Linked DNA regions of Homo sapiens: region 2 is linked to region 1. The links come from fine-mapping of genetic effects on gene expression. A gene starts in region 1. The other region holds a variant in brackets. All regions are shown on one strand. Distances are from middle to middle.

Evidence for each region. PIP is the estimated chance that this variant, and not a neighbour inherited with it, causes the effect.
Region 2: its variant is the best candidate, but not a certain one, in a credible set for the expression of AMDHD1 in sun-exposed skin (GTEx, PIP 0.61).

What each region holds. Positions count from the first base shown.
Region 1 is chr12:95,941,922-95,944,421 of GRCh38, forward strand. It overlaps AMDHD1 (amidohydrolase domain containing 1), which reads left to right and starts at 1,410. Exons shown (of 9, transcript NM_152435.3): 1 at 1,410-1,614. The coding sequence starts at 1,478. It overlaps CCDC38 (coiled-coil domain containing 38), which reads right to left and starts at 693. Exons shown (of 16, transcript NM_182496.3): 1 at 510-693.
Region 2 is chr12:95,979,449-95,981,948 of GRCh38, forward strand. HAL (histidine ammonia-lyase) reads right to left here. Exons shown (of 21, transcript NM_002108.4): 16 at 1,350-1,415; 17 at 1,108-1,273. Among named protein-coding and RNA genes, the nearest start is that of HAL, 16 kb to the right of the region's middle. The variant G/A (reference allele first, on the strand shown) is at 1,524.

The DNA.
Region 1 (2,500 bases):
TCTTTCCTAACTGATCTCTCTTTTATAGGCCATAATATGAAGCTAAATTATATTCTTATTTATCGTGGTCATCTAAAGGAGTGTTTGCTTTCTGTTCCAGGTTTTTTTAATGAGACTAAATTAACTTTTATATTTTGTGGGTTTGCAGGCTTAGTCTGCTTTTATAGTATATTATTTGTGTCCACATCTATCACTTTTATTGTAAAGTCTTTACTGGGCAGGGAAAGCGCCTTTCCTATCTTTGTATGTTCCACAAGACTTAACACAGAGCTTGTGATAAACATGAATAAACGAAATCAAGTAATTAAGGACTCAAAAGCCTGGGCCTGGCAGTGTTTCCATAGCAATTGGTAGCAGGAAGCGACGAGGCTGAGAATCACAGACCATCTTCCATAAACTTGATTCTGTCTCCAATTTTGGTCGCAAGTTGCTTGTAGGCCCACCAGACACAGCTGAGGGGTGGGAGGGGGCATGCGGAGGGGCGGACACTGAGCTGAAACCTATTTTACCTCAGCGAGTTTGGATCCAGGAGCCTTTCCAACCTATCGTTCGGGAAGGCGTTGTGGGAAAAGTGGGCGGAGGTGCCAATCGATCCTCCAGTCTCGGCTCTATCCTCCCCCAGCCCGGTTCCCGGTCATCTCAGGGACCGTCTGGTAGCTGATCCCGGAACGCAGCTGGCCAACGGATAAGTGCGGGGCACCCGCCACCCGCGCGGACCCAGGAGCACCTCCCCTACCGCATCCCCCTCCTCCCCACCCCCAGGTTCCCTCGGCTCGCGGCCCTCCGCGTCCCGGGCTCCCGCCCCAGAACCTGTGGGCAGATGTTTCCTCCACGCAGTACCCTCCCGGGGCTCTGCCTCCAGGCTCGCGTCCCAGCACCCTAGGCAGAGGTTTCCCCCACTCTGTCCTCTCCCGGGGCTCTACCTCCAAGCTCCCGTCCCTGCCCCTGGGCACAGCTTTCCCCTACTCTGCCCTCTCCAGGAGCGCTATCTCCAGGCTCCCACCCCAACCCCCCGGGCAGAGGTTTCCCCCATGGCCCCCCTTCCGGGGCTCTACCCCAGGTTCCGGTCCCTCACTCCCGAACACTCCGGGTGCCCTCACCCAGCCAACCCTTGACGCGCTTCCACATACCACGTGATCCACACAGCTCACTTTGATCTCTCGGGGTGACCAAGCTTAAGTTTCCTTATCTGAAAAGTAGGGACACTAGTCTCCATCTCGTTTACTCGGGATGGGACAAGACGACCAAAAAAGAGAGGATTCCTCATCAGGTTTATTACTCGTTGCCATTCTTGCAATGATTACCGCCCCCGTTGCTGTGGTTGGGGGAGGCGAGCAAAGGGCAGCGGCTGCGAGCGCCCGCCCCCGCCCCACCCTCCCAGCCCCGGACAGCGCAGGCTGCGGCTTTTCGTCCTCCACTGAGTCCTGCCGGTGGCCCGAGCCCGGTGGCCTCCCGGCGACCCTCGGCGCGAGGCGACATGGCAAGCGGCCACAGCCTCCTGCTGGAGAACGCGCAGCAAGTGGTGCTGGTGTGCGCCCGCGGCGAGCGCTTCCTGGCGCGGGATGCGCTGCGCAGCCTGGCGGTGCTGGAAGGCGCCAGCCTGGTGGTGGGCAAGTAAGTGGCCGGGCGCGCAGGGTGGGGACCGCCACGGGCGGAGCTGGCCGCTCTTCCTCTCACTGTGCACTCTGGAGGGAAACAACGCCGTGAAAGCGTCCCTGCACAGAGATACACGGGCAAGCCAGCCTTTGGGGTACCTGTTGCTAACACGCTCTGCTGCTTGGGGTTGTCATTCCGTCCAAAGAGCTCAGAGAGGAACACCCCATTGGAACGCATCAGGGTCCTGCCTCTGCTGGTAAAATATCACTGTCCAACCATCAGAAGGGGTTGAGGTCCTCCCCAGTGCTTCTTAAAGGGAGGCCAGAAGACCACCTTTGTCAGGGTGGCCTGTGGTTATTTTATTCTTACGGCAGATTTCTGATTCCACCTGCGTCCCCCACTCCCTATCCCTAGAATTTTAGAATCAGCATCACTGGGGCTGGAGTTCTGAGACCTGAATTTTTCAAAAGTACCTTTCACATCCTCGTGATCTCGTACACTAAAGCTTTAGAACCACGGAGAACATTTAGACGATAATGGCCCTGAGTGATAATAAATCAAGATTTGACCATCAGAAAACAAGATATTTCTCTTACTCATCTGAGCTTCCTGCCAGATATGAATAAAAGAACAAAGTTTGAGGGCGACCTGGGGTAGCAAGGGAAGTTGGATGAGAATTTGAATCCAAAGCGTGCCATGGGACCACAATTGCACACGATCAATGAGTCTCACAAACTGACCACGGCTTATCTGAGGCAGTTTAGGGTTGTGCAAGAGCCCAGCTTTTAAGGGACTGTGGGTTGGTTTAATTTTATTTATTTATTTATTTATTTATTTATTTATTTATTTATTTATTTTTGAGACGCATGAGCCACTGCGCCCAGCCTATTTTTTGTTTTTTTGA
Region 2 (2,500 bases), 38 kb after region 1:
ACTGATCTCCATTTTATGCAGGTGTAAATTGAGGATCAACAGGATAAAGAGGCTCACAGAGCTAGTAAATGGCAGAGCTGGGCTTCTGATCTAGCATCTACGCATGTAATAACTCATGCTATCCTGCCTTTTAGGGTAGGGTTGTTAGATAAAGTAAAGGATGCCCAGTTAAATTTTGATTTTAGATTAAAAAAATAATTTTTGTAGTACAAGTATGTCCCAAATAATTCAAATTTAACTAGTCATCCTGTGTTTTTGTTAAATTTGACAACCCTATTTTAGGATTAAGTATTGATTAAAATGAGATCCTCATTAATTGAAGTAAAAGCACATTTTTGCATGCCAAAATTCAGGGTTTGAATTCTGCTTTACATCTTGCTAGCTGTGCAATATTGGGCAAGTCACTTAACTCTCAGATCTTCAGATATTCATCTATAGATAACAATAATAGCACTTACCTCAGGTGACAATTGTGCAATTAAGTGAATGAACATAAATGAGGCCCTTAGTACTTACTTAGTGCCAGGCACTGTTCTGATGTGTTAATCTGTCTCTTACAATCTTGAGTCAGAAATAAACTATATTGAAGCTCAATCTTCACAGAGGGTATCCTGATTCTTATAAGCATTTTTTTAATGTTGCAATAACATCTTTATGTTTTTAGTGGTTGTTATATCTAGTGAAATGAATCCAAAGTTTAATTATAGGTTTAAAAGTTCAAAGTTTAATTATAGGTTGGTTCAAGTTTCACCATTAACTATAACCATCTTAGTCTTTTTCCAATAGTCTTCAAATGGAGATTTGGAAAAAAGCTATAGAGATGAAGTTCATATGCAATGTCAAATTGCTTTCCACAGAGAAATTGTCCATTACAGCCTTATTATTGTATTATTATATTTCAGCATAACAGTATCGAAGTTTTTAAACTATTTTTTTCTGAAAAATATTAGAGTTAACCTGTTACCTTTGCACTGAGAGAACTAGGATGCAGATAAAAGTGGTGAAAAGTTAGATCTCACTCACAGACCACATTTGATACTTCTAGGTGAAATGGAAAGACCCTTAGATGGACGGGCGTGTGTTCTGGGAAAGGGGCAGTGTCCTTACCAAGGGCTGCTGCCGTGCAGTGAGCTATCATGAACCCAGAGTTCAGACCACCTTCAGCCACCAGGAAGGCAGGCAGCTCACTGAGGGAGGGATTGCAGAGCCGCTCGATTCTTCTCTCACTGATTGCAGCAAGTTCATGGATGCCAATGGCCAAGTAGTCTAGGGCCTGAAAGAGGGTCTCCATTTAGTCAGCCTATATTGAAATGTGCCTTCTGGGTCAGGAGCAGTTTTAAAAAGCTTACTTTGGCTGGGTATTCACCATGGAAGTTTCCTCCAGAAACTGTCTCTCCCCTATTGGCAAAGACCATCTTTCAAAAGAGGTTAAGGCTTGAAGATAATGTTTGCTGGTCACTTCAAGTACAACCCCTTCCTGCCTTCTTTTTTAACGTGGAGGTGGCAGTCTGTGTACAAATGTG[G/A]GGTGGAGGGAAAGAGACAAGTCTTCCTGCAAGAGATATAAAGGGGCACAAAAGCAAAAAACAAAAAGCCTTAAAGGTGGATCATGTACACCCAATTTGGAGGCTGAAAAAACATGAACCTTGAAATGATGTTTTCTCTTGAGATTAGATTCTAAAGCACCATAACTGTACTAACCTGGTGGTTAGTACCTGCCCTCAAAAGGTTTATAGCCTGAAACTAAAAACAGAGACCAACACATCTGTTTGAAAGCAACTTCTGTTTCTTCAATGGGCACTGCAAATTTGTGTTCCATAGAAGAATCTGTTGAATGGGAAACTCTGCTGATGAGCAACTACCAAAATGTCTGGAACAATCAATTTTGAGAAAATTTTCAAATTCTTTACTCAGTAATCTGGTGTCAGCGTTCAACAGCAGATGGTGGCCAATATGTCCTCATGAATCCATTTTAAGTAGGTGGCAAGTTTAAATTTGCTGAATATTATTACTCTGAGGTAATTCTTTTTTTATTTTCTGTATCATTCTGTCACCCAGGCTGGAGTGCAGGGGCGCCATCTCGGCTCACTGCGACCTCTGCCTCCCGGGTTCAAGTGATTTCTTGTGCCTCAGCCTCCTGAGTAGCTGGGATTACAGGCATGCACCATCACACCCAGTTAAATTTTGTATTTTTAGTAGAGACAGGGTTTTGCCATGTTGGCCAGGCTGGTCTTGGACTCTTGGCCTCAAGTGATCAGCCCACCTTGGCCTCCCAAAGTGCTGGGATTACAGGTGTGAGCCACCAAACCCAGCCTCAGATAATTCTATTCCATCATGCACTTTACTTAAACCAGCAAGCACCCAGGAAAAGGCAGTAACAGATCCTTCTTCCTGGTTCTAAAGAGCTAATCTTTGCCTCTTGGGCTCAAGAATATTCATTACCTATTAACTGAGAACTTGCTGTGTGCAAGAAAGTTTCTAACTTTGAAAGAGTTAGAGATGT